Homo sapiens: one gene and its partners. The protein of the gene in region 2 interacts with the protein of the main gene of each other region in a pairwise test. Each region holds a gene or a part of one and is shown on either strand. Other genes may lie near its edges.

Region 1 (5,298 bases), on a different chromosome or scaffold from region 2:
TCTGTCAGATATTAAAGTTTCTAACCCTGTTTTTTTAATCTCCAAGAATGGGGAAAGTGGAATGTAGAGATGGAAGCAGAACGTGATGTTTGGATACAACAGCTATTTAATCCTTTTTTATTTTTTAAGCAAAACACTCAGTTTTCTACCTTATTTTCTAATGTTGATTTCATGGTAATACTGACAGTTGGAAGTGTTTAACATAAAAACTCATTGCTAAAGAGCACTGAGGAAATGGGAGCTAGCGCACTTGTAATAAAAATAAAGACAAAATATTTTCTTGAATGCATATATGTGATTGGGTATTTTAAAAACCAGTATCATCTGTCATCTCCAAAAGATTACAGGAGTCAGCTTGTTAATACAGTAGTGTTAGTAGGTTCTGTATTTTTAATTCAGTACTTAGAATTCTAGGTCCTTTATTGCCCAAAGTCAGCACAGTTAGTTTATACCACAGACTCTGTCTTGGGGCACAGTAGTGGGGCGGGGTAGTGACTTTGCCTAAACATCACCCAGCTGGAACAGAGGCTGAGCGGGGCTTTAGGCACTTGCCAGATGGGAACTGGGTTGCACCCTCCTTGCTCCCTGTCATTTTCTTGTCACTCTTCCTGCTTCCCAGTGTTTTATTTTATGCCTTGCTCGTTGTACATCATGATGACTGATGGTCTTCAAGGTTGTGAGGAAAGCCGTCTCCCTGCTTGACTCGACTGCTGTCCCAGAGGAGAGTCCTGTGCGACCTGAGCGGGGGTGGCTGCCATTTCCAGCATGCAGGTGACTTCCAAAGAATGAGTCAGGTGGCACTGAAAGCCATGGGTTCTGAAGAGGCGAATTTGTTGAAAAGTCCCAAGGGTCTGAATGAAAGCATCTTTAATCAACACTCAACACTCGCAATATTCTAGAAAACCATATACTGTGCTGGTTGAGGCCAAAGGTTAACATTGCTCCACTGTTCACCAAGGAAGGGGGCAGTGGCCATCCGCCGCGGCCTCACGTGCGTTGTAACAAGCCCTCATCACATGTGTGAGTCTTACGTGCACAAAAAGAGAAGGCTTTGGTACTGAAACTGGACACCTTGTGTACTCGATACCTTCACAGCTTCTATTGGACATATTTTCTTTTTAGGAATGAAGGAAAATTCTCCCATTTTTGAGCCATTCTTTTGTCAATTCTACAAAATTGCATGTAACTTTATAAATATTTTTAAAAGATATAGTTTTGTAAATATTTAATATTCCGCTAATTTGATTTTGAATTGTAAATGTCAAGTATTCTGTTTTTGGGGTTTTTATGTTTTATTATACTTTGTTAAAAAGGACAAATTGTACATTTTTAGAATGTTTTTATGAGTAAATTTAATGTACTGAAAATAAAAATTTTAAAAAAGGCTGTTTTATTTCACTAGGTCTTTGTCTCAGAATATGAAGCACACACCTTTTCACATCAGTCTGAATCTCCAAACTAGGGGTTCCATCCTTTCTAGCCTCTCACATTTACAGCAGGGATACCTCATTTTAAATCTGTTGATTCTCAATCAAGTTGCCAAGTGTTTTGTGTTTTTTTTTTTTTTCCAGATGGAGTTTCGCTCTTGTTGCCCAGGCTGGAATGTGGTGACACGATCTCAGCTCACGCCAACCTCCCGGGTTCCAGCGATTCTCCTGCCTCAGCCTCCCGAGTAGCTGGGATTACAGGCATGCGCCACCACGCCCGGCTAATTTTGTATTTTTTAGTAAAGACTTGGGCTTCTCCATGTTGGTCAGGCTGGTCCAGAACTTCGGAGCTCAGGTGATCCTCCCGCCTCAGCCTCCCAAAGTGCTGGGATTACAGGCGTGAGCCACCACACCTGGCCAAGTTTTGTATTTTTTTTTTTTTAAGTGTCCCTGCTAATAACAAAGACGTAAATTCCTGATTTGGGGTTAAAGATGTTCCAGCACGAGTTCACGAGTTTCCATGAAAATGAAAGTTGGCATGAATGGATCTCAAGATACCTTGGCAATGTGGCCCTACCCTGAAGTAGCTCTTTCCCAGGGAGGGAGCAGGCCTGCTGCGGAGGTGGGTGACACAGTGACACAAGCCACCAGCTGCCACATCAGCCTGTGACTGACTCGGCATTGTACAGAATCGCTTCCATGGCATCTAAGACCACACCCTTCTGGATTTGGGAGGTGGCAACATACTGAGCATGTGCTCTGGTGATGTCAGGGAAGTGAGTGGGGCTACAGCACCCACGGGGAGCTCCGAAGACGGGACAAGGGACGCAGACGCTTCTATTGAGCAGCTGGCCTGGGAAGGCAGTTTTCTCAGGTCACTCCCTTGTATTTTTCAACAGACTTTTAGGTGCCTACTTAAACGGGAGCTGGGCTCAGAGTTCCCTAGATGATGAGGTTGGCCACTTTTTGTCTGGTCTGAGTGCTGAAGTGTGTGTGTGCTGCATCTGTACACGATGCCAGCAGCTCCCCACTGGGTCCCCCAAGGGTACACTTTCTCGACCACACACACATACCTAATAAATACTTATGGTGGTGGGTGGTTTACAGCAGTAGGTTGTTGGGTGTTATAGTCCCACAAAACATGTAGGTCAATTCGCATCCATCCTGATAGCCCGTGGCACGTGAGTTCTCAAGAGGACTTGGCTTTGTAAAGGCCAGACCTGGTGGCAGGGCCTTGGCCAAGGTGGAGGGTGCCCTTGACAAGGCAGAGGCCCTCGGAGGGCAATGCTCATCCACGTGAGTGCCCCCTCTGCACGAGAGGACCAGCCTGGATGCCCCTCCTTGGAAATACAAGGACCCGCTTGGCTTTGGAAAGTACAAACAGTGTGGGATCCAAGTCTCAAATACGGAATCCCATTAAACTGGGCTTTGATGACAGTTTTTAATTGTGCCTTTATTCAACTTAGTTCATTAAAAATGTTTTAAAGATCCTATAAATAAAGTGACCACTCACATGGGATATAGGTCACCCCTCAGCATGTTATTTTTTTTCTTAAAAAGCAGTATTTCTTACAGGAATCTTACTGATCACACGGTAGTTACAATAATGTCAGATATGATGTATACAGTCTAAACGAGACAGTCCAGTTAAGAATATACATAATGTAAAAATACACATATTAAAAGTTAGCCAAGTGGACAGACGCATGCGGGGGTGGGGGGAGCAGGTGACAGGAACTCCTTTAACAATCAGTAGAGGGCCCAGATGCAAAGAATCTGGTTTTCCCCGTTACAGTAAACAGCTTTCACTAACGTATACAGGTATTTCATACACATCTAAACACACAAGGGTAAGTTGTGACCTGCTACACATAGGGTCTAAAGTGGTGTAATTGTGATTTTCCTGTGATACTCCCAAGAAAACTATAAATAGTGAACCCCATGCAAGTACTGGGAAGCACTAGTCTTTTATCACAGGTTGAACCTGAGGAGGTTTAACTCTTGACATTAGTATCTGTAAAGAGCGTACGGCTCTTTTTGCTATGTTTTCTCCACAACTGACATGCACTTGGTGTGGGAGAATTCTGATGGCTGTCTGACCTAAGAGTGATAACTACTATTCAAAATGTGGGTACCTTTTCAGTAATACTGAGTTACACATTTAACATTAAAAAAACAAAAACGTGGATCATCCACAGCTTTAAGCCGGAAGGCAGAAGGGAGTGTGTCTGAATGTTAATGTTTTCAGTTATACTATTTTGTGTTTCTCCCGCTGTACTCCAGAGTGACACTGGTACACTGCTGCTTTCCGTAACAACACAGGCACTAGTTTGAACTCAGACAAAACCTGAAACAGAAGAAATGCCACTCTTTCTCCAGGGTCTTTTAAGAAACTCGATCAAAATTATAAATTATTCAAGTTTCCTTTTGAGTGGTGTCTTTATGTGTGTAACTATCTAGAGAACAAACCAAACCAGAAATGTCTACCCCTGCAAGAGTGAGGACTTTGGGTGTGGTTCTCTTAGGAGTCAGGGACCTTCAGCAGTTTACAGTCAGGGCCGTTTTCTCACACAGCCCGTTTACCCTGCGTTTGTGCCAACTGTGATGGCAAATGCGTTTTGCGGGGGTTGCGCTTCACAACTCAGGCCTAAAGATCCTCTTAGGGAGATCTCTCTAGCTGAGTAGAAAACTTCTACCCAAAAAGGCGGCGGGTTTTGTGAACCTGAAGAGAAGACTCAGGGTCTCTCTGAAAGCCTTTAAATTACTGCTGGAATTACAAGTTCCTATTAGTGAGAAAAGAGCATTAAAATAACTTGAAGGTCTATTTTATTGGCAACTTAGAATGCAAAGTATTTTATTTTTAAACTTTTAAAATTTGAAAACAAGCTAGCCTACATTAAATAATATAGTTTCCAAAGCTGAATGTGCTCACTTGGAGCTCAGTTTTTCTGCTTGAAACACAAACACAACTTCCTAACACTCCTAGGTGGGAACACTACTGTTTCATGATCTGTGATTGGATGAACTGATCGATCTCAGTTGGTAACATCCCTTTTTTTTCCTTGGTAAGGGTTTAAACAATTCTAGAAGAGCTGCATTTTTTCTGGTTTTACACTGACAATTTCATCCCGAACGTCTCCTGGGAGGCATAGACCATGTACAGGAATCCATCTTCATCTTTCTCACTCTCATACACCTCTGAGATTGGTGTGGAGACGCTGACCATGCTGTGTCCGTTCACCAACAGGAAGAAGGCCTGATTAGCATTGAGCTGTAAGCGCCTTCTATTGAAAGAAAACAACGTGAAGAAATATTGACAACAATACAAGAAGGATGAAGCATGTGTTAAAATATCACCCACTCTGATCGGTAAAATATAAAAATGTTCTAAATGCTCTTGAATCCAATACTTCTCATAAAGCACAGGACACTTCCTTTGATTATATTGACATGAGCTATAATCACTGAAAGATTACATATTAGGCTGATTTTAAACTAGTATACTGTCTGAACAGCTGTTAAACTGTCTAATATAAGAAAGCAGTTCAAATACAGTTTCTGAACTATTCTAAGATCTAAGCCTGTGCCATTTACTGCCACTCACAGAGTCTACATTCTCTTTAACTAGCTTTGCTGTACAATACCTTAATAACTTGTAACACTGATTTTAAACAGGAAACATCTAAACGATGTTATGATGAAAGAAACGGGCTCTGCAGTCTAGCAAGTAATATAAAACCTCAAAAAAAGAAACATTTTATAGTTTAAGTTGAAATTGTTTTAATCATAACTGAATCAGAACTGAATTCAGCTGAAAAATATTTTTTAAAGATTTTAACCAGAACTAAAGATTTAACTGTAAGTTTCATAA
Region 2 (5,859 bases):
CTCACAGGTACTCAGGGCCAGGCCCACAGTAGATGCTCACAGAGTGCATGTCCACACAGCAGCCCAGGGCCTGACACACAGTGGGTGCCCACAGCCCGACACACAGTAGGTGCTCCCAGAAACCCAAGGCTTGACAGTAGGTGCCCACACAGCAGCCCAGTCCCCAGCAAACAGATAGATACTCAATAAGGAATGAGACACAGAGGCTGTCCCAGGGCTGACCTGCAGGAAGTCACACCTCAATGCATAAAGGGCCAGGAGGAGGGGAGGGCCAAGGAGCTTGGGAAGGGGCTGCAGGCTGCAAGCTGTCAGCACCGCAGTGTCCTGGCCTGGGCACTTCACCCCCCTCCCATGGAAAGTAGTGGCTAGACCAAATCCAGAGCCTAGGATGGGCATGTGGGCAGCAGGGCAACAGAGAGAGTTGGAGTCAGGCCTCAGGAGGCAGAGGAGAGCTGAGGGCCCCCCAGGGAGGGGCCGGGGCCTGGGGAGGGGGAGGGCACTCACTATTCCAGCCGCCTTGGCCAGGTCGGGGTTGTTGGGCGCGAAGCTCCCGCTGTGGCTGGTGGACACGGTGTTGGGCTTCTTGTTGCTCAGCCCCATGGCATCCATGGACTGGCTGCGGCTCCGGATGACCCGCTGTGAAGGGGGTGGCAGTGGAGGAGGCACAGGATTCCTAAGGGCCGTCCCCTTGGGGAAACCCAGGAGCCCAGGCATCTGGTCTCTCCCCAGCAATGCCACTCTGGGTAAGCCCTGGAAATCCCTTCCCCTGGGCATGTGGCCAGCAGGGCAACAGAGGGAGGTGGGGCCAGGCCTCAATTTCCCTGTGCGTCACATGAGAAGCAGGTACATACGGGGCCTAAGGGTAGCTCAGGTATTGGCTCTGCCACCAACTTGCCGGGTGGCCTTGGGGACACCACTTCAGTTCTCTCACTCTCTGGGACACACAGGCTGCTCTGTGCTGAGTGTCCTCATGTGGCTGCGTAAGGACTGCAGAAGACACTGGGTCATGGCCAAAAGTGTGCACAGAGAGCCCTCTTGACACCTCAGTTTCATTCCTGTTAGGGCCTCTTAGAGCTCTCCTGCCTTCTTTCTTTTCTTCCCTCCCACCCTCTTTCCTTGTTTTTTTCAGACCAATCTACACCAAATGCTTGCTATGGGACCAGCGCTTTACAATCACTCTATCACTGGATCCCCCTGCAAGATGGGGACTAGCAATCATGCCCATTTCATGCCAACTGAGGCAGGGGTGAGCCCGGCATGCCAGGACCCATGCCCTCAACTCTGGACTCCGCTGCTTCTGAGAAATTCTTTGACCTAATCTAGGTCCACCGTCCAGCACCTACCAGATGTGGGACCATCGGAGCCCTCCTCAAAGGAGACACCCCAGATCCATATTGACCCCACCTGTCCTGTCTCCAGTCCCCAAGCCTCTTTCTCAAAGACGATCTGTTCACCTCAGTTCCTGGGCAGGCCTGGGCAGCCGGGCTAATTCCCTTATTCCAACCCATAGCTCCAGCTGTGTGACCTGTCCTGGGTTGAGGGTGAGGTGTGACCAGCCGGCCGGGAAGCTGGAGGATGGGCAGTTATCCTCCTGTGGGTGGAGGAGACGGTGGCAAAAAGGCTACCACCTGGGGCCCTGTGGCCTGAGTGAGTCCAGACCCTGTCCAGGAACTACTCCACTCCCCACACTTCTCATTTCAGACAACATTTGCTGAGGCAGACAGGCAAGGTTTTGCATTTTGCTTTTAAACTTGTATTGCACTAACCTAACTCTTTTACAGATAACAATAACTGTATGAGGCAAGTTGCCATTACCCTACTCAACAGATAAAGAAACTGATGCTCACAGAATGCCCAAGCTGGTAAGTAACAGAGCTGAAATTTGAAGTGTCCGTGCTCTTAATGCTAAGCTAAACCAGGGACAGGCAGGGTAGGTCACACAGGCCAAGTCCCTCTCCAATGATCATGGTTCACACACCTCTTCTGAGAACTCTATTTCTTTCCCTCAGTCAAGACAGAGCCTCTTCCTCTCTTCTCTTCCTGCTGACCTAGCAGCCTTTGTACCAGCAGCCCTTGCTGTCTCCCAGAATCCTCCACCCTTCAGCAGAATTCCCAGGTGAATTCCCCACCTAGGCCCCACCTCCAACAGTTACTCCTCCCCAAGCCAGGGCCCCACCTTACATGCTGCTCCTTCAAACTCTACCCAAGGCAGACTATGTCCCCAAGTGTAAGCCCATTCTAAAGCCCAAGTCCACTTCGAGCCCCGCCCTCATCCCAGACTAGAGCCTCCTCTAGCCACACCCCCACGCCATGTCCATTAGCCCCGGCCCCTGACTCCACCCCCAGCCACGTCCCATCCCAGACTCTACCCGCAGGCGAGCGGCCTCTAGCCACACCTCCACACCATGTCAATCAGCCCCAGTCCGGGACTTCGCCCCAGCCACGCCCCCTCTCAGACTCCAATGCGAACGGCCTCTAGCTGCACTCCCCATGCTGTGTCAATCCCCCAGTCCGGGACTCCACCCCCTCAGCCACGCCCCTTCTGCCAGACTCCACCCCCACGCCGTGTCCATCAGTCTATCAGCCTCAGCCCGGGATTCCGCCCTAGCCACGTCCCTGCTCCCCGGCCAGTTAGACCTGGGGCCCTTCACCTTGAAAGACTCAAAGAAGCCGCCGCCCCCACTGCCATTCTCCATCTTGTCCTCGTCGCCGCCCAAGCCCATCATGGACTGGCTGTGGATGTGTAGTTCCTCATAGAGCGTCTCCAGGAGGGCGGCCCGCGTCCGCTCCTGTGGGCCAGGCCCGGGCCGTCAGGAGGGACCCCAAGGATCAGCCCTTCGGCCCACAGTTCAAATCCTGGCCACCTTCTGAGGCACGGGCCACCTTCTCTGAATGAGTGGGGAGTGGGGAGGGCGGAGGGCTCCTGCACCGCCTTCCCCCAGGCCACTCCACAGCTCAAGCATCCCCCAGGGACCCTCATATGAAGGGCCCCTCAAAGCCCCTTCAAGATCTGGCTTCATGTCCCCACCCCCCAGGTCCACCCCCCCACCTGACAGGTCCCAAGGTGTCCCTGTCAGCCTAACCGCCTCCCAGCATCTCCTGGGAACTCCTCAGTATCCCTCCGGCTTCCTCTCCCCGACCTCCTACTCGTCCATCAATCCATCCAGCCCCAGGTGTCCCCGCTAAGGCCAAGGTCTGAACATGGCTTTTCCCTTCCCAGGGACAGGGCTGAAGTTATAGGTTGGAAGGTGAGAAGAGGGTCACCCAGCCCTCACAGCCCATCCTCACCTCCAGTTTGGCAAACTTCTCTGCCTTGTAGCAGGCATATTCAGCATTGATCAGCTTTGTCAGCAAAAATTCCTGGAACTCAGGCCCCTGGAAACTCCCAGTGTGGAGGAGATAAGGAAGGGAAGTTGAGATGACACATAAACAAGGGTCGGAACCCCAACGAGGCAGAGGCTGCAGCTCCTGAACCATGCTCTGCTGGGGCCTGGGGTCACCCTCTTCACTCCCAAAAGGGTATCTCCCTGGGCTCAGCTCCCCAGGTACCTTCAAGGGGCCCCAGTGCCCTTCATGGCTGCCCACGCCTTCGGGAGAGCAAACTCCACAGATGTTAGGGTCTGGGTTGGGGTCTCAACCTACTGCTTCAGTCTAGGGTAGCAGAACACGCTACGTACAGAGCTGAAGCCCAGGCTTGAAGTGTGCCCCTCCCCAAACATTTTAGAAGAAAGAAAGAGACTGGAACTGTCAGAAAGAGAACAGAAATGAGGAGAGGCCAGTCTACTATGGAAAGTGTAAAACAATCGTGTAGTTTATCCTGTGACCTTGTGAAAAAAAAAAAAAAGGTGTTTTCAAGATGAATGGAAAAGCCAGGCCCCGGTTGCAGTTAGGGGAGCCCAGCTGCCCTGGCATACAATGAGACTTTGGGACCTCATAAGGCAGAATGTGTATGCACCCCCCAGGCCCCCACCCATTTGTCCTGCTCTGCCCATGACTGGGGGGGTGCCCCTCACCTTCCTGAACACAGCGGGGTCCGGGAGGGGGGGTCCAAAGAAGGGCACATCATCTCTTGCAGTGACAGAGACCTGGAAGGGAGGGCAGCTGTCTGTTCCTGTGGAGCCTGGGGTCTGCTCTGCCCCACCCAGCCAGAAACCCCTACTGTGCCTCCCTGGACTGCCCCTTGGTCGGGGAGACCCAGTGACTGTGGGCTGGATGAATCTTTCTTCCAGAGATTTCTGCCCTCTATCTTTTGCCCTGAATTTTAGTGGTGGAGATGGGTAGGGGCCTTAGGAATCATCGGGATGGTGAAGGCAGAGGAGGCTACGGGAGGTGGAGGACAGTGATACCAGGCCAGGAGGCAGAGGAGGGAAACTGTCCTCTCTGAGGGGGTGAGCTTTGGGGACGACAGGGGGCGTGGTGTGAACAGTGCACCATTGAAGCCTTCCATGGTCCCCCCATTATAGCTGGAAAAAGTGAGGCTCAGAGGGGCATCCCAGGGAGGGCAGAGCTGCAGCCAGGGCCCTTGCTGATGCCCCTGGGAGGCTCCAAGAGCGCCCACCTTGTAGAGGGGGCCATCAGGGCCCCCGCCCTCAGCCTGCACCACGACGTAGGCATGCAGGAAGTTGGACGCGATCATGTCGGGCACGAAAGGAGTGTTCTCATCCTGGAAGACCACAGCCACGATGTCGTTCCCGATGTGCCGCTTCCGCTGCAACTGAGCACAAAGCCACGGGCCTTCGTGGTCTGGCCAGAGGGGGCCCATGGGGGAGAGGGGTGCCCACGGGGGTTTAGGAGGGTTTGGGGTAGTCAGAGGGCACATCTAAGGATTTGCTTTCCCCAAAATAATGTAGCAAAAAAACTTGTCTTAAAACTATTTTAGTTGAAAAATGGCCTGTTTGGAACAACGTACACTCTTTAGGTGATGAGGGTACACTAATATCCCAGACCTCACCACTATTCAATTCATCCATGTAACCAAAACCCACTTGTACCTGGATATCTATTGAAATTACAAGAAAAATTATTTTAGTTTTCTTGGGATGCTGTGGCAGATGATGATATCAAGGCCGAGAGAAGTGACTTGGAAGGTGCTATAATGAGCTATAATGAGCTTGGGGACTCGAGCCCAGGTCTCTTGGTCCCCAGACCCTACCTCTCAGCCCTTCTCCTATCTCAATGCCCCAAACATGGCCCCCAATTGAATAAACAAGCTCAACTTGGTATACATTCATGTTGCTAAAATGAACACAGACCCTTAGTAAACGAAAGTCAAAAGACACTAAAAATAAGGAATAGCTATTTCCATTTTTCTCACATTTCCTTTTATCCCCCTGGGCTGGGGACCTGACTGGGAAGGCAGATAGCCCTGTAGGAGGCTCAGGACAAGGGGACACGCTTCTGAGTTCAGTTCCTGGCACATGCCTTGCATGTCCTCGAGTCCAGGCCTTTGTAGAAGCTGTTCTCGCCACCTGGAACATTTCCCTTCCTTCTCCCAGCTCCTTCACGGACTAAAAGTCACTTTCTCTTGAAAGCTTTTCCTGACTCCCACCTCTGCCAAGACTACATGTCCCCACATGACCCCATGATGCTCTCCACTCCCCATAAAACACCAGCTCAGATCTGCTGAACTCTTGCAATGTACTAGGCACTGTTCTAGTCCCTCTATGCACCCACGCATTTATGCTCACCTAGGAAGTGGGTGCCATTCTGACTGTAGAAACCAAGGCTTTCTGTCTCCCCTGACCCAACGAGACCCCACAAGTGGGGGCGCTGATCATTTCCATCTCCATCCCAGGGCCCAGCGCTGAGCCTGGCGTGATGGAGGCTGAACAGACAGGTGGAGGGGGAGGACAGGTGGAA
Region 3 (5,859 bases), on a different chromosome or scaffold from region 2:
CGAGACCAGCTTGACCAACATGGGGAAAACCGCTCTCTACTAAAAATACAAAAATCAGCTGAGCATGGTGGTGGGCGCCTGTAATCCCAGCTACTGGGGAGGCTGAGGCAGGAGAGTCGCTTGAACCTGGGAGGCAGAAGTTGTGGTGAGCCGAGATGGTGCCACTGCACTCCAGCCTGGGCAACAGAGCAAGACTCTGTCTCAAAAAAACAAGGCCGGGCGCCTGTAATCCCAGCACTTGGGGAGGTCAAGGCGGGTGGATCGCCTGAGGTCAGGAGTTGGAGACCAGCCTGGCCAACATGGTGAAACCCCGTCTCTACTAAAAATACGAAATTTTCTGGGCGTGGTGGCGGACGCCTCCCAGCTACTCTGGAGGCTGAGGCAGGAGAATCGCTTGAACCCGGGAGGTCAGTTCAAGGCCAGCTTGACCAACATAGCAAAACTCTCTTTCTACTAAAAATACAAAAATTACCCAAGTGTGGTGGCGGGCACTGCAGTGAGCCGAGATTGTGCCACTGCACTCCAGCCTGGGCAACTGAGACTCCATCTCAAAAAGAAAAAAAAAACTGCAAAGAGATCCTCTCCGGGTTCGCGGCAGGTTGGCTTCTTGTCACCACCTGCTAGCCTTGGGACAGTAACAGATGACTTCCACTCCCGAATCTGTGGAGGGAACTGGTGGAATCGCCATGGGCCCTACCTGCGTGGAGTGCTGGAAGCCTAGGCGGAAGGCCCCAGAGTCCCTGAGAGCATCTGTAGGGACACTGCTTTGGCGGCTTTGCCGCCTCAGAGAGCCATGGTCAGGGCGCCGCGGCCACTGGCAGACCGACTAGATGGCCTCAGTGTTGGCTCCTCCTCCCTGGGCAGCTGCTCCTCCTCCCAGCCACTTTTTGGCTTGAACCTCAGGAGTTAATTTTATTAATCATTTACCCAAGAAAAATATGAACTTAGTAGCCCTTTTTAAGAGTCAGGATTTTTGGTGGCAACGCTTGCCAGCTTAGTTCTGTCTGTGAAATGTTGGCTTAAAAGCCGAATTGTCATGAGCATTCCTTGAATGTCTTTTACTACACCTCGGTGTTTGTTGCTATAGACTATTGCATGTGCATTACATGCCTACTGTAGGCTTCTGATATGCATATCCACATGCCCATCATGGGTGGCCTCTGTATTTCCCCTGCACTGAGAAGCCGTTGTGTTGTGTCGCCTTTAGGTTGACATCATGGACATATGTGAGTCCATCCTGGAGAGGAAGCGGCATGACAGCGAAAGGTCTACTTGCAGCATCTTGGAGCAGACAGACATGGAAGCTGTCGAGGCTCTTGTTTGTATGAGCTCCTGGGGTCAAAGATCCCAGAAAGGTGACCTGTTGCGGATAAGACCCCTCACGCCTGTCTCTGACTCTGGGGATGTCACCACCACTGTGCATATGGATGCAGCCACACCTGAACTACCAAAAGACTTCCATTCTTTATCGACTCTGGTAAGAGGAGGTGGGAGGGAGGAGCGTTTTTGTGAAATGACTAGAGTAGCTGAACTCAGTGTGTTGAAGAACTTGTGAGAAGATTCCCTGGGATGCTGGCAAATAAGTTGCGTATCCTCTCTGTGTGGGTCTGAAGGAGTAGAAACTCTTCCTTTGGCCAGGCATGGTGGCTCAAGCCTGTAATCCCAGCACTTTGGGAGGGCCAGGCAGGCAGATCACAAGGTCAGGAGTTCGAGACCAGCCAGACCAACATGGTGAAACCTCATCTCTACTAAAAGTACAAAATTTATCCGGGTGTGGTGGCGGGCGCCTGTAGTCCCAGCTATTCAGGAGTCTGAGGTAGGAGAATCGCTTGAACCCGGGAGGCGGAGGTTGCAGTGAGCCGAGATCGTGCCACTGCACTCCAGCCTGGGCAACAGAGCGCGAGACCCCATCTCAAAAAAAAATAAAAGAACAAAAAAAGAAACTTTTCTTTCATTTCTGAAAAATGTGCTCTTTCTATGGATGGATCATACCTTGCTAGCTACGTGGTTAATGTCCGTGGGATGAAACCTACAGATTAATGTGAGAAAGTGAAATTTACTTCCCCAGGGGAATCTCGGGGTGGAGCTTAGGTTCTCCAGCCTAGTGTCAGAATATATCGGTAGCAGCTGGAGAAAGCATGTACTTTGACATCAGATTGCCTTCGTTGGGTGGCACCTCTGCCCTCCCGTGGCAGCCGACTCCTTAATGTGAGTTCTGTGAGTTGGGTGCAGTAAGTCACTCTTGCTTTTTGTTTTTTTAATTTGCTACATCTGTGAAAGTACTTGGAAAAATTGCATCTCAGCTTGGAGAAGCTGAGAACTGTAGGTTGCTAACAGAAGTGGAAATTGTGATTGTCCTGGGCTGGAAGCTTGCTCTGAAAGAAGAGTGTAGAAAGCAGATTTGGAGAGGGATAGGAAGGGCCTGTGGGTTGTCGGGAGGGTTGCAGAAGTGGTGGGCCTGGCGGCCAGGAGCTCCTCTCAGAGTTCCCTGCACTGGGCTCTTGTGTAGGTTTGGGAGAGGTAAACACGTTGGGAATAAGCTGAGAAAGCAGAGTGCCTCATGCAGCCTTGAAACCCACTGGGATGTTGAAAACAGGGTTAACTGAGTGTCTAGATGATTCTGTGTAAAGGTATTGGGAGCATTGTGATGAATTAAATCCCTTTTAAAATTTAAAGCAACCTTTTAACATGGTACTTTTTTTTTTAGTGCATAACTCCTCCTCAGAGCCCTGATCTCGTGGAGCCATCGACAAGGACACCTGTTTCTCCCCAAGTAACAGATTCCAAAGCATGTACAGCCACGGATGTTCTCCAGTCCTCTGCCGTAGTGGCCAGAGCTCTGAGCGGGGGCGCGGAGAGGGGCTTGCTGGGTTTGGAGCCAGTGCCCAGCTCTCCCTGCAGGGCCAAGGGGACTAGCGTGATCCGACACACTGGGGAGAGCCCTGCTGCCTGCTTTCCCACCATCCAGACTCCAGATTGCCGGCTTTCTGACAGCAGAGAAGGAGAAGAGCAGCTTCTGGGACACTTTGAAACTTTGCAGGACACACACCTCACGGACAGTTTACTCAGCACTAACTTGGTGTCCTGTCAGCCCTGCTTGCACAAGTCTGGTGGCCTGCTGCTCACTGACAAAGGCCAGCAGGCAGGGTGGCCTGGTGCAGTTCAGACTTGCTCACCAAAGAATTATGAAAATGACCTGCCCAGGAAAACCACCCCTCTGATTTCTGTCTCTGTCCCTGCTCCCCCTGTCCTTTGCCAGATGATCCCTGTGACTGGACAAAGTAGCATGTTACCAGCTTTTTTGAAGCCCCCTCCCCAGTTGTCTGTGGGGACTGTGAGACCCATCCTAGCTCAGGCTGCTCCAGCGCCTCAACCTGTGTTCGTGGGACCTGCTGTGCCTCAGGGAGCTGTGATGTTGGTCCTGCCCCAGGGAGCCCTCCCTCCGCCTGCCCCCTGTGCAGCCAATGTCATGGCTGCCGGGAATACCAAGTTGTTGCCCCTTGCCCCTGCTCCAGTGTTCATCACCTCTAGCCAAAACTGTGTCCCTCAGGTAGACTTTTCCCGAAGGAGGAACTATGTATGCAGCTTCCCAGGTTGCCGGAAGACCTACTTCAAAAGTTCCCACCTTAAGGCCCATCTTCGCACTCACACAGGTAAGCGCTGGGGCAGGTGGGGCATTGGGCACACCAGACCCTGTGGTTAGGAAGCACACCTTGAGCCGCCTTTGGCTGGGAGGGGATCATGAGAACCCCTGGCGAAGGTGGAAGTGTGGCTTTTTCTTTGGTTCTGAAAAGCCCGCACAACCTTGTAAGGGTGGGATTGTTTGCACAGCCATCAGGATTTTGCCTACAGAGCGCTCGCCCTGGAAGATAAAATGTAGTATAGTTCTGTGATTGTGTCTTTTGGTAGCTTTTAGAGTGACTTACAGTGCCCCCTTCTGTTCACATTGCAGTAGACGTTTCATCCTTTTTTTTTTTTTTTTTTTTTTAAAGAAAACATGCATTCATTCACATTTAGTAAATGTATCTTACCAGTGTGACTTATGTTTATGTGAGAAAAGGTCTGGCCAAACTATAGAAAAGTTCAAATTCTAAAATATTTTTTAAAAGAGTATAGTTTTCTTACCTCTGAGAGTAGTTTTTAATTTAAAGTAAGTCACACAAGAAACTATGCTGACCTAATGATCTCTCTGTTGTCTAACCAGCTCTGTCCAATATAATTTTTTGCAATGGTGGAAATGTTTGTTGTCTGTCCATTAGGGTAGCCACTGGCTGCTCACACTTGAAGTGTGTGGCTAGTGTGCCTGAGGAACTGAATTTTACATTTTTTAGTATTTGAAGTTTAAATAGCTCCATGGGACCTGTGGCTGCCCTGCTGCGCAGCAGTGGTCTGAGTGTTGCTGGATAGACAATCGCTTCAGTAGGTGAGGGCACCATTTCTCAGGTGTTCTGTGAGTTTGTGTTCTGTTGCTCTGATCGTGGTAGCCTCCACGTGTAGAATAAAGTGCAGTCTGGTGTTCAGACATTATAAGAGGAACTCTACTACTCCATTCTACTGAGTGGCTGCTTGCTTTGAGGATAAAGCCAAACTTGGCCCATGAGGTACTCACCTCTGCCCATTCAGAAACAGTCTCCCCAACATTCTATGTCTGGTTCCATATTTCCACCCTTCCCTCTTGGCCCTCTGCCCATCTCTACTTACTGAAACCCTCTGAGGGCCTTCCTAGGATTAGTTATTAGATTGTTTCTTTATCTTCCTTCTTTGACCCTAGTGGTTTATTGTAGGTCTTACTATAGTCTCCCTTTGTTTTTTAGTTAGTTGTATATCTCACCTGGATATATTCCTGGTGCTTGATAAAAGGGCCTGACACTAGTCAGTAAATGAGGGTTGGTTGTTTGCATGGCAGATGGACGTGGGGCTGTGTCAGGGAACGGGTGTTTCTGAGGGGAATTGACCTGCCTGCCTCTTTTAATGGGCTTGTTGACTTGGTGAGCTCTGCATTTCACCGGGACTCTCCAGGGGAACTTTGCATTACACCAGAGCACAGCTTCCAAATGTTGGAGGTGACTGAATGAAGTTTTACCGTTTATTTGGTTTACCTTGGTAGAAGTACTGACAGAATGACCTGCAGTGATTGAAACAAGTTGCTTCCATGTTTCCTAAAGTACTTCCAATTCAATAACAGGCCTTGTACAGGGGCTCACGCCTGTCATCCCAGCACTTTGGGAGGCCAAGGTGGGCAGATCACAAGGTCAGGAGTTTGAGACCAGCCTGGCCAACATGGTGAAACCCCGTTTCTACTAAAAATACAAAAATTAGCTGGGCCTTCTGGCGCATGCCTATAATCCTAGCTGCTCAGGAGGCTGAGGCAGGAGAATCACTTGAACCTGGGAGATGGAGGTTGCAGTGAATGGAGATTGCGCCATTACACTCCAACCTGGGCGACAGAGCGAGACTCTTATCTCAAAAAAAAAAAAAAAAAAAATTGGCCAGGCACTGTGGCTCATACCTGTATTCCCAGCACTTTCCGAGGCCAAGGCAGGCAGATCACGAGGTCAAGAAATTGAGACCATCCTGGCCAACATGGTGAAACCCCGTCTCTACTAAAAATACAAAAATAGTTGGGCTTGGTGGCACGCTCCTGTAGTCCCAGCTACTTGGGAGGCTGAGGCAGGAGAATCGCTTGAGCCTGGGAGGCGGAGGTTGCAGTGAGCCGAGATTACGCCACTGCACTCCAGCCTGGTGACAGAGTGAGACTCCGTCTCAAAAAATAAAAATAAATAACTGTAAGAGTTCTGAAGAATCCCCTTGTGCCATTTTGTAAACTTGGAATTTTCATGAGAAGTAGAAACTGGGCAA
Region 4 (5,551 bases), about 16 Mb from region 2:
TGGGCCACTGAAGGCACCCTCCCTGAGGCCCTTCTCTGAGGCCTTGCACTTTGTCTCCAAGCGAGAACACCCTAATGTCCTTCCCAAGAGGAAGGGTGTTTGCAGTAGACATACTGCAAGCCCCCTCCCCACGCCCTGTCTGATCTCATGGTGTGTGTGCATTGGAAGATGAGTTGATCCGGGAGGTCACCATCAACTGTGCGGAGAGGGGGCTGCTGCTGCTGCGAGTCCGGGACGAGATCCGCATGACCATCGCTGCCTACCAGACCCTGTACGAGAGCAGCGTGGCGTTTGGCATGAGGAAGGCACTGCAGGCTGAGCAGGGGAAGTCAGACATGGAGAGGAAAGTGAGTGGGGTTTACCGTGACCCTTGGTCCCATCTCTTCTGTAAACCTCAGGGCCACATGCTTATCATTCCAGCACTACATTCTGACCTCCTAAGGTGCTCTGCTGACAGTCACGACACCTGGACTTGCATCACCTCAGTGAGGGACCCCTGGTTGAGTATGATGGCCAGCCTGGTGGTCTTGGCAGAGTTGTTTCCGCTGTAGACGCTCCATGCCAGGCACTGACCTCCCACTGGGTGGCAGTATATACCCTGGCAATGTCATGTCCCATGTCCCTTCCACCCAGGCTCACACCATTCCATTCACCTGGCGACATCCCAGGATGACTGGGCATTCTCTCCTCAGATCGCAGAATTGGAGACGGAAAAGAGAGACCTGGAGAGGCAAGTGAACGAGCAGAAGGCAAAATGTGAAGCCACTGAGAAGCGGGAGAGCGAGAGGCGGCAGGTGGAGGAGAAGAAGCACAATGAGGAGATTCAGTTCCTGAAGCGAACAAATCAGCAGCTGAAGGTAATCAACGCGCAGGGTGGGGTGGAGGTGCCCCCTGCCCTGCGACCCAGCCCCACAGGCCAGGCATTCGGTTCCTTTTCCATGGCTTTTAAATGTTTGTCCACATGCACTGCCAAAGGATAAAGGAAGCTGACTTTGGTGGTGGGAGAAGGGGAGGGCTCCAGAGGGGGTCTCTACTCTCAACTCCAAATCTCTGAGGCGCCTCAGCCTGGCTCTCCAGTGGAGGATTCTTCTCCCTGGAAAAAAGTTGCCCATCCTCAAGGAAGAGGTGGATATGGCAAAAAGTGGAACTCCATTCCCCTGGAAGCTGGTATGTTGGAGCCTTTCTGGAGGGGGCTGGGCTCCAGGTGGCTTGCGTGGTAGTGCCATCCCATGGCTGTCTCCTCTGAGGCCCTGTTTCAGGGCATAACCAGGGAAGAAGTCAAAGGGCAGCAGGGCCCTTTGAGAGGAAGAACCATTTCAAATCAGAAACCTTCCCCAGAAATGTGGTCGGGGAACCCAGGCACAGGTGCTCTTCCTCGAAGTCCGATGCCAGCAGTGGTCTTTTATCCAGCTGAGGTGATAGGAGGGAGGGGGCTGGTGGACAAAGCTGGGCAGGAGGCCATGCTACAGGCACTGCAACTCCCAGCTGTTTGGTCCAAAGGTCTCAAAAGGTAGGCCCTAGATCAACATCGTCCTCACCTGGCAAAGCAAGACAAATTATTGGGCCCACCCCAGATCTACCAAATCAGAAAATTCGGGGTTGGGGTCCAGCAATGTGCTTTAACAAGGTCTCAGGTGATTCTAATGTTTGCAGAAGTTTGAGCATCACTGTTCTGGAAAGATGGCCTACTGACATTTAGTGGCCTTCTCCCATGGCCCTGGCCAAAGGACCCTGGATGGATCTCCCTCTCCTCCCTAGGCTCAGATAGAAACCTTACAATCTTGACATTGCAGGCTTGTTTGGTCTACACACCAGCAGGACTGGCCATTTGCGATAAAGAAGGCTTTCTGTTAACCACTACTGGAACTTTTCTTGTTGCACAAAGAAAAGCAAGAAACTTTCACAGCCAGAGATGAATCTGTTTCCTTAGCAGCCTCTGAGGCTGCTTTCCTTAACTGCCATATTCCTTTTTCATAAGCCTGAGTTCCTCAGTTCTTCCTGGATTAGCAACAAGAGCAAACCAAATACCTTAGCATGTTTCTAACATTTAAAAGCAATCTTGTAATCTCCAGGGTGAAAGATTCTTTAGAAGTTGGCATTTTTAAATTTTTTTTCTTTTGAGACGGAGTTTTGCTCTTGTTGCCCAGGCTGGAGTGCAATGGCACCATCTCAACTCATTGCAACCTCTACCTCCCGGGTTGAAGTGATTCTCTTGCCTCAGCCTCCTGAGTAGCTGGGATTACAGGCATGTGCCAGCACGCCCGGCAAATTTCTGTATTTTGAATAGAGATGGGGTTTCACCATGTTGGCCAGGCTGGTCATGAACTCCTGACCTCACATGATCTGCCCACCTTGGCCTCCCAAAGTGCTGGAATTACAGGCTTGTAATACAGGAAGTGAGCTATTTTTATTGGCTCAAAACTGCATTGCAAATAAAGCAGCTTTGCTGTCCCCAGGATAGACCTACCTAAAGATCTGTCCAGTATTATTTTATTGGCTACCAGAGGAACATAGTAAATAACTCCCAAGTGTCTTAAGCTTTACATAAAGAGGGACAGCTCTCGGCTGGGTGTGGTAGCTCACACCTGTAATCCCAGCACTTTGGGAGGCCGAGGCAGGTGGATCACATGAGGTCAGGAGTTTGAGACCAGCCTGGCCAACGTGGTGAAACCCATTTCTACTAAAAATACAAAAAGTAGCTGGGCGTGGTGATGTGCATCTGTAATCCAAGCTACTCAGGAGGCTGAGGCAGGAGAATCACTTGAACCCGGGAGGTAGAGGTTGCAGTGAACCGATATCACACCATCACACTCCAGCCTGGGTGACAAGAGCAAAACTCCATTCCCCACCCCCACCCCCCAACAAAGAGGGACAGCTCTGTATTCACTGGCAGCATTTCTCTAATTGTGTGCCAAGTTGTCTCAGTGGCTGAAAATTCACTGTTTCCCAAACCTCTGGTCCCAGCAGAACTCCCAGGATCCTAAACCAGAGAGCCAATATTTTTTTTTTTTTGAGACGGAGTCTCCCTCTGTCACCCAGGCTGGAGTGCAGTGGCACGATCTTGGCTCACTGCAAGCCCCGCCTCCCAGGTTCATGCTATTCTCCTGCCTCAGCCTCTGGAGTAGCTGGGACTACAGACGCCTGCCACCACGCCCAACTAATTTTTGTATTTTTAGTAGAGACGGGGTTTCACCGTGTTATCCAGGATGGTCTGGATCTCCTGACCTCACGATCCGCCCGCCTCAGCCTCCCAAAGTGCTGGGATTACAGGAATGAGCCACTGCGCCCGGCCAGAGAGCCAAATGTTTAACTTAGCAGACATATTCTGGCCTGAAACCTGAGCCATGAAAAGCCCTTACAACAATGCATTCAATATCCTTTTCAATGCTTTATATCATACCCGGAGCCATTATTGTGTTGAAACCAGGACAGCTCTGGCTTCTCCTCATATACTAAAGACTGTATGCCAAGCTAGAAACTAGCTAATCTAGAAAATATGGATTTGGGGATCAAGGGGAAAAAGAACCCTTGGAGTGACAGCATGTGGATTCTTCTTCCCAGAGATTTGATCACCTCTCAGCTATTTGTATCAGGCTGCAAGTTTCAAGTATTAATGGAGCTTGTTTTTGTTTTTCAGGCCCAACTGGAAGGCATTATTGCACCAAAGAAGTGATAATTTCCACATGATTAATTTCCAACAAGACACTTGGGAGTTATTTACTGTGTTCCTCTGGCAGCCAATAAAATCATCATAAGCCCTTTGTAATAAAAAGCTAGTTTCCTGAGTGAACAAGCCATAACCTCCCCTAAACACCACCTAGGTATTTGTTAGAAGTCACACTATTACTCCAATGTCATCAGACACCTAAGGTCTGCCAGCCAGGCTCCTGGCTGGGCAATGGAAGATGGTGTGGCCCTGTTAGTCTCCGTGTGTGGCTTACTAGCCAGCCTTGGGAACTGCCAACTCAAATTCTAAGAAAGCCACTGCTTTCTCATCATCACTCTATACCAATACTTATTTCTGGCCAAATGAATCTGCTTCTCTGCCCCTCAAACTTTTAGTTCACAATTCATCTTCTACCTTAACTTGGGCTTCTTGGGCCTCTGGCCTTCCTTACTTAATGTCTTCTTTTCCCTACTCTAATGCATTTCTAACTCACTTTGGAGCTTTGGTTTTCTAATGTATTATCCCCACTTGCCAGTCAACTGGACCCCTTCCTCCTCGGTTTCAGACTGCCTACATTAGGAAACAATGGCAGTCAAACCCATGGCTTTGGAGAAAGTAAATGTTTGCCAGAAAGGAATACTAGTCACAGTGGCCTTTGTGAGTTGTCTGCAACTCAGCTCTTCCCCCAGCACAGATCTGTTCCCCTTATCCTGCAGAAAATCAAGCCCTGACTCTGCACTCCCCGAAGTAGTGATGTTAATTAACAACTGAAGAGGTAACTAAATCTCACATGCAGGTCTAATGACTAATAATTGGAGTACGGCTGCTAGACAACTGCATTTTAGTATTTCTCTTCCATTCTCCTGGTTTTGTAGACCCAGAAGATTGAATGAGTGACATAAATCTTTAGTTCGGGGCAAGCCAGGGTGGGCTAGGGTGGTAAGCTGGAGGACTTCATCCTTCAGTTAGGCTGCACAAGTAACATTACCTAAAAGGCACTAACATGCTCAGGTTCCCCAGAAAGAGGCGTAAGAAGGGCCTCTCCTTAGCAGAGCTTCCACCTGCCATCCGTCTTGGGTTCAGTGAGCTTCAAGGCTCACAATGGAAGCACTGTCATTTCCCCAGAAAAGCTGTGTTCCCTATGCTGAACACACCATACACATTCTCATCTGGAATCTAAGGAGCAGCTTTTACCCTGATCCAGTATCCTGAGGAATTTTAAGCCTCCACTCAAATGACCTGCCTGTGTTGTCATTTCCATGGGAAAGAACTCTTTCCACGAGATCTGCTAGTTCCAGGCCTCTAAGACAGGAACGTATGTGCCATAAGTGGGTCTACTTCACAGACTCAATGAGGCAGAAATTATTGTAGTTTTCTCCTATTTCTTCTGCACCCAACTTTCTCCTTGTATTTCAAAGGCCAGGCCATGTACACTAACGTCCTTGAAATTTGCAGTTCTGTATGCTTCTATTCCAAATCATTCATTACCAATAAAAACGAAATACCACCCTTTCCATTTTATAGACCTCATCCCCTATTTCTGTCAGACAGTTATATGACAGGGTGACTGTGGAACCTCTTAGTTCATCCAAAGTCTACCTGAAGTGCTAGACTTTCAGACTCTTATCACTGAAATCCTTAAGGTTGAGGAGGCTTTATTTCCCTAGCACTGGTGAAGGGCTTCAACTGTCAAACCTCAGAACAAATGCATTAGGGCCTTAGAAATGTCAATGGGGCAGGAAGAAAACACAATTTCTAACTGCCTGTTTTTGTATAATTTAATAAAAACCTTTTAAACATTACTGCTTTTGTCTGAATTTTTTGCGTTTGTGTTTCTGTCCCTCTGAGTCATTGGTCTTCTTTTTGTTCCTGTTCCTATTTTTC
Region 5 (5,859 bases), on a different chromosome or scaffold from region 2:
GAGGCTGGTGAGCCCCAGATTGAGGGTGGCGTCTGGCAAAGACCTTCTTGCCATGTCATGGCAAGAAGGCATGGTGGAAGGCAGGACGGCACAGACCGGAGGGGGCTGGATTCGCCCTTTAGTCAGGAACCCACTCCCCTGCTGATGGCATTCACTCATCCACGAGGGCAGCGACTCAGATCCTCTCTCTAGGCCCCAGCCCCAGCCCCAGCAGTGCTGGATTGGGGACCAGGTTCCCAACACATGACCCTTGGGGGGTGCATCAAAGACACAGCACTGTGTGGAGTGACGTCTGTGCTGCTTCTTCCTCCCTTGTCACGGTCACACCTCCCTCACTCACCTGTGGGACAGCCTCACTGGGCGTGGCCGTGGTGTGTGCCGTGAGGTGTGGAGGGTGCCGTCTCCCGGCTTGAGCGCTGAGTTTGTCCCCGTGGCTCACCTTGTTTCTGTCAGGTTGGTTTCAGCGTTGCTGGGGCAAGGCTGAGGGTAAACATGAGCGACTCCAAGGCCAGGGAGCCCTGTGCCAAGGTGTGGACCTTTTGGGTTCTCAGCTGAAGTAGAGAATCCAGGGAGGACCCCGCACTCCGGCCATTGGAGCTGTGGCGTCCTCCCTCCTGTGTGTCCCCCGGAACCTCCTGAGCCTCTCTGGAGCTGTTCTCTGCCAGGCCCCGTGGGCTCTCCTGCCCTCTGCATGCATCGCGAGTACTGCCGGAGGAGGCCCCTTTGGCTTTCAGAGCCCAGAGCGCCCGACCTCCTCCAGGAGTCTGCAGATCCACAGGCCTCAGATGCTGCCACACCCACCCAGCACACACCCAGGTCTCTGACACGCCAGCCGCACACAGCGGTGGGGTTCAGGCGAAGGTTTCTTCCACAGTGCAGAGTAGAAGAGCCGGGAAGGACCCCATCACCATCAGATGCATCAGAGCTTCAAAGGCCCGCCCATCAAGACGCTGCCAAGAGCATGAGGCCAGCCAGGCTGGGGAGGACGTTGGCGAGCATCCGCCTGCCCGTCAGGGAGCCACAGCTGGATGATACATCGACAGACAGCAGAGGGACGGTGTAGCACACAGGCGAGGGCTTGTCCTCCTCAGCCTGGGGGAGCGCAGCTCAGTGCTTGGTGGTCAGCACGTGACTGACACTTTGCCGGAGAAGGGGACGGCTGCCCGCAGGAAGAGCTACACAGCCGTGTTCGCCGGAACTCCGCTCTGGAGAGTCAGAACTGGAGACGGGAGGGCGTGCCTCAAGGGCAGATGGGCAAACCAAACCCCATCCTCCCTGTGAGCCGCGGCACAGCACCAGGCGGGCACACGCAGCACGACACGGCGAGGAGCCCACCGCAGGGGCAGCCTTTTGGGCGGGGAAGGGGGGATGAATCCACTGTGAATCCCACCTCCGAAGGGCAGCGCAGGAAGGACACGCAAATGCTGGACTGAACCTGCAGCTGATTCAGGGGGCAGTGTCCTGAGCTCTAAAACTTCAAACCTGGGGCAGTGTCCTGAGCTCTAAAACTTCGAAATCTGACCAGGCACAGTGGCTCACGCCTGTAATCCCAACACTTTGGGAGGCTGATGTGGGCGGATCACCTGACGTCAGGAGTTCGAGACCAGCCTGGACAACATGGAGAAAGCCCATCTCTAGTAAAAATACAAAAATTAGCCAGGTTGATGGTGCCTGCCTGTAATTCCAGCTACTCAGGAGGCTGAGGCAGGAGAATCGCTTGAACCCAGGAGGCAGAGGTTCCAGTGAGCCGTGATCGCGCCAGTGCACTCCAGCCTGGGCAACAGAACGAGACTCTGCTCCAAAAAGAAAAAAACTTTGAAATCCCTCTAAAAATAAAATGGACCGGTGGATGGTAGCTGTGAGGATGGACCGTGTGGCAGGTTTAGTTCTGGGGCCTCGGCAATGAGTGTTGGGTGTTTGGGGCACGGCTCCTGTTGTTTTACGAGGAGAATTTCCTAATAACGTGTTACACTGGGGAGAACGTAGGAGGGGAGCCCATTTGTTCTGAAAACGCGGGGACCAGCCCTGGTCCCCGGCTCAGGACTGGAGGGGTTGCCCTGGTCCCTGGCTCAGGACTGGAGAGACCAGCCCTGGTCCCGGGCTCAGGGCTGCAGGGAGGCACCTGGTCTTCCCTCGTCCTCACGATCCTGCACCCTCAAGATGCCACGTTGTTGAGGCTGTTTAGGGAACTTGACAAGCTGATTGGAAACTGTGCTGAAATAGAGCCCAGGTAGTGATGCGGACAGGGCAGTGCCAGAAGGAGCCCCAGCGATTCCTGTGCTGCAAGGCACGCCCAGGACGGGGCACTAGCCGGGGGAAGAGGCTCTCAGGGCCCAGGTGGGACCCCAGCCTCAGACTATGAGGTCATGACTGTGTACAGCTCAGCCACCGGGCTTTGGGACTTTGAATCCACCTTAGCAGGGTTTCCAAACCCATTGTCTCCACGGCCACCCTGCCAGTCCAGCTGCAGCAGGGCGGAACAAAGTGGAGGCCTCTTTCTTGCTTTCTTTTTTTTTTTTTTTGAGACAGAGTTTCTCTCTTGTTGCCCAGGCTGGAGTGCAATGGCACCATCTCAGCTCACCACAACCTTCACCTCCCGGGTTCAGGCAATTCTCCTGCCTCAGCCTCCCTGGTAGCTGGGATTACAGGCATGCATCACCATGCCAGGCTAATTTTGTATTTTTAGTAGAGATGGGGTTTCTCCATGTTTGTCAGGCTGGTCTCGAACTCCCGACCTCAGGTGATCCGCCTGCGTCAGCCTCCCAAAGTGCTGGGATTACAGGCATAAGCCACCGTGCCCGGCCACAGAGGCCTCATTCTGCAGCGTATGCTACTCGGGCAAAGGCAGCTGACTGCAGACCCAACACGGTGACCCAGCTGGATGGTGCCTGAGAGACGGGGCTGCCCCACATGGTGCCCTGTCATGCCGCGGGACAGGTCGCCCAGCAGATGGTAGCTATGGCCCCAGTGCCATCCTGGGCTGGAGACACATGGGTGCCAGACACGTTCATGCCTGTCGTCTGGCCCAGCTGCCGTGGGGAGCCCTCCAGGGCCGTGTGCCTGCAGGGACCGGCCTGTTCACCTCTAGGCTCACCCCTCGGGTGCTGAGTCACCACAGTGGGTGGGGCCGTGCCCCCTCCCAGGCCGGCTTCCACAGCTGCCCCTGCAGAGCGCCTCTGTGTTAAGGGCTGGCCGCCTCCTTCCTCAGGGGGTGTAACATGTAAAAAGCTGCACCCTGGCCTGTACAGGGGCTCCCGCCTGTTATCCCAGCCCTGTGGGAGGCTGAGGCAGGCAGATCGCTTGAGCTCAGGAGTTCAAGATCAGCCCGGGCAACTTGGAGAAACCCCGTCTCTACTAAAAATACAAAAATTAGTTGGGTGTGGTGGTGCGCACCTGTAGTCCCAGCTACTTGGGAGGCTGAGATGGGAGGATGGCTTGAGCCTGGGAGACAAAGGCTGCAGTGAACTGCGATCTCGCCACTACACTCCAGACTGGGCAACAGAGCGACACCGTCTCAAAAAAAAAAAAAAAAAAAAGGTTCTGGGCCTCGTACCTTCTGCGCTTTCATGAGACTCAGCCCTGGAAGTCCTATGTGGCTGGTGGCCCCAGGGAACAGGACCTGGGCTCCTCTCTTCTAACCCATGTGGGCCACAGGTCCCTGTCCATCTGTGCTGGGGCTCACCTGGGGGCCGAGGGCCTCGGGCATGTGGGAGATTTGTCTTTGAGAAAGGGGTGGAGGAGTGTGGAGCCCTTGGGGCTGCCTGCAGGCCGTGAGAGACCTCCCCAGTGCCGCTTCTGTCCTGGGCTAGGGAGGTGGGGGGGCGGGGGAGGAGGAGTGGCAGACACTGAGGCGGTGACCACACGGGCAGGGTGCAGGTGTCGGGATGACTTGGCAGGCCATGGTGCAGTGCTCTGGCAGGCTGGGCCCAGGCCCTGCTGCTGGGCAGTGGTGTCATTTGGAGGGTGGTCCTTCAGGGACCCCCTCCTGCCTCCTGCCTCGGGGGTGGGCTGGGGAGGTCGGGGCTAGGTGGGCCCTGCGCTGGCGGTGCTGATGGTCTCTGTCCCCGCAGGAAAGAATCTCTATACAAATGAATACGTGGCTATCAAATTGGTGAGTCGGCCCCTCCACCCCACCCCCGCTGACGTGCCCCCCAGGGATTTCAGGGCAGCGACCCGGTCCCCTGGTGACTCGCTCTTGTGCCCCCAGGAGCCGATCAAGTCCCGGGCCCCGCAGCTGCACCTGGAGTACCGGTTCTACAAGCAGCTCAGCGCCACAGGTACCGGGCGGCCCGCGGGTGGGGCGGGGGCTGCGCAGGGGCAGGGAGGGGGCTGCCGCCGCACGCCCGTGCGTCTGTCCTCCGCCGCAGAGGGCGTCCCTCAGGTCTACTACTTCGGTCCGTGCGGGAAGTACAACGCCATGGTGCTGGAGCTGCTGGGGCCCAGCCTGGAGGACCTGTTCGACCTGTGCGACCGGACCTTCACGCTCAAGACGGTGCTGATGATCGCCATCCAGCTGGTGCGCGGCGGGCGGGGCGGGGCGGGGCTCGGAGGGAAGAGGGTGGCCCTGGAGGGGAGCGCGTGGGACGGGGAGGGGCCCGGCCGACACCGCCGTGCCCCCCTGCAGATCACGCGCATGGAGTATGTGCACACCAAGAGCCTAATCTACCGGGACGTGAAGCCCGAGAACTTCCTGGTGGGCCGCCCGGGGACCAAGCGGCAGCATGCCATCCACATCATCGACTTCGGGCTGGCCAAGGAGTACATCGACCCCGAGACCAAGAAGCACATCCCGTACCGCGAGCACAAGAGCCTGACGGGCACGGCGCGCTACATGAGCATCAACACGCACCTGGGCAAGGGTGAGCTGCGCGCGCGCGGCGGGGGGCGGGCGCCCGGACCCCGCTGAGGCTGCGCCCCTGTCCCCGCAGAGCAGAGCCGCCGCGACGACCTGGAGGCGCTGGGCCACATGTTCATGTACTTCCTGCGCGGCAGCCTCCCCTGGCAGGGGCTCAAGGTGGGCGAGGAGGCCGGGCAGGCGGGCGGGGACGCAGGGCGGGAGCAAGGCTGACCACAGACCCCCGCAGGCCGACACGCTCAAGGAGCGGTACCAGAAGATCGGGGACACCAAACGCGCCACGCCCATCGAGGTGCTCTGCGAGAACTTCCCAGGTAAGGGGTCCCTGCGCCCCCGCCCTGTGCCCCCCACCCCCCACCCCCCACCCCCACCCCCGCCGAGGCCCCGCTGGCGCTCTCTCTGCAGAGGAGATGGCCACGTACCTGCGCTATGTGCGGCGCCTGGACTTCTTCGAGAAGCCCGACTATGACTACCTGCGGAAGCTCTTCACCGACCTCTTCGACCGCAGTGGCTTCGTGTTCGACTATGAGTACGACTGGGCCGGGAAGCCCCTGGTAGGTGGGGGGGTGCCGGTATGTGGGAGCGGGGGACCGGGAAACTGCCCTGAGGGAGATGGGAACCGGCGCTGCAGCCCATCCTGACCCCTGCTCCCTCACCCACAGCCGACCCCCATCGGCACCGTCCACACCGACCTGCCCTCCCAGCCTCAGCTCCGGGACAAAACCCAGCCGCACAGCAAAAACCAGGTGAGGCCCGGGCGGGACCGACCGCCCCAGGGAGGGGCATGGGCGGCCAGCGTGACCCCCTACTGCCCCCACCAGGCGTTGAACTCCACCAACGGGGAGCTGAATGCGGACGACCCCACGGCCGGCCACTCCAACGCCCCGATCACAGCGCCTGCAGAGGTGGAGGTGGCCGATGAAACCAAGTAAGGCTCTGGGGCGGTGCCTTCGGGGAGGTGGGGGTGCCCTGGGTCCCCATGGGGGTGGGAGGGCCTGAGGCCT

The links.
Region 1: the proteins of RAP1GAP (region 2) and MAP1LC3B interact in a two-hybrid assay, tested with the Homo sapiens proteins (one large-scale study listed by BioGRID and IntAct).
Region 3: the proteins of RAP1GAP (region 2) and KLF11 interact in binary tests that used the Homo sapiens proteins (3 or more experiments, as listed by UniProt).
Region 4: the proteins of RAP1GAP (region 2) and DNALI1 interact in binary tests that used the Homo sapiens proteins (3 or more experiments, as listed by UniProt).
Region 5: the proteins of RAP1GAP (region 2) and CSNK1G2 interact in a two-hybrid assay, tested with the Homo sapiens proteins (one large-scale study listed by BioGRID and IntAct).

Annotation. Positions count from the first base shown.
Region 1 is NC_000016.10:87,402,336-87,407,633, reverse strand, and holds the end of MAP1LC3B (microtubule-associated protein 1 light chain 3 beta), read right to left. Parts: intron 4,712-5,298; coding exon 4,537-4,711; 3' UTR 2,860-4,536; downstream 1-2,859.
Region 2 is NC_000001.11:21,605,562-21,611,420, forward strand, and holds part of RAP1GAP (rap1 GTPase-activating protein 1), read right to left. Parts: intron 4,715-5,859; coding exon 4,559-4,714; intron 4,086-4,558; coding exon 4,014-4,085; intron 3,745-4,013; exon of another isoform or gene 3,550-3,744; intron 3,376-3,549; coding exon 3,289-3,375; intron 2,790-3,288; coding exon 2,652-2,789; intron 637-2,651; coding exon 505-636; intron 1-504. UniProt on the Homo sapiens protein: GTPase activator for the nuclear Ras-related regulatory protein RAP-1A (KREV-1), converting it to the putatively inactive GDP-bound state.
Region 3 is NC_000002.12:10,044,943-10,050,801, forward strand, and holds part of KLF11 (Krueppel-like factor 11), read left to right. Parts: intron 1-389; exon of another isoform or gene 390-407; intron 408-1,207; coding exon 1,208-1,477; intron 1,478-2,707; coding exon 2,708-3,653; intron 3,654-5,859. UniProt on the Homo sapiens protein: Transcription factor. Activates the epsilon- and gamma-globin gene promoters and, to a much lower degree, the beta-globin gene and represses promoters containing SP1-like binding inhibiting cell growth.
Region 4 is NC_000001.11:37,561,389-37,566,939, forward strand, and holds the end of DNALI1 (axonemal dynein light intermediate polypeptide 1), read left to right. Parts: intron 1-168; coding exon 169-347; intron 348-692; coding exon 693-857; intron 858-3,637; coding exon 3,638-3,673; 3' UTR 3,674-5,466; downstream 5,467-5,551. Other genes in the region: GNL2 (nucleolar GTP-binding protein 2), read right to left, coding at 5,467-5,551. UniProt on the Homo sapiens protein: Involved in sperm flagellum assembly.
Region 5 is NC_000019.10:1,974,235-1,980,093, forward strand, and holds part of CSNK1G2 (casein kinase I), read left to right. Parts: intron 1-874; exon of another isoform or gene 875-1,837; coding exon of another isoform or gene 1,838-1,880; intron 1,881-4,070; coding exon 4,071-4,111; intron 4,112-4,207; coding exon 4,208-4,277; coding exon of another isoform or gene 4,278-4,367; coding exon 4,368-4,516; intron 4,517-4,624; coding exon 4,625-4,859; intron 4,860-4,928; coding exon 4,929-5,014; intron 5,015-5,084; coding exon 5,085-5,169; intron 5,170-5,260; coding exon 5,261-5,409; intron 5,410-5,517; coding exon 5,518-5,601; coding exon of another isoform or gene 5,602-5,676; coding exon 5,677-5,783; intron 5,784-5,859. UniProt on the Homo sapiens protein: Serine/threonine-protein kinase. Casein kinases are operationally defined by their preferential utilization of acidic proteins such as caseins as substrates. It can phosphorylate a large number of proteins. Participates in Wnt signaling.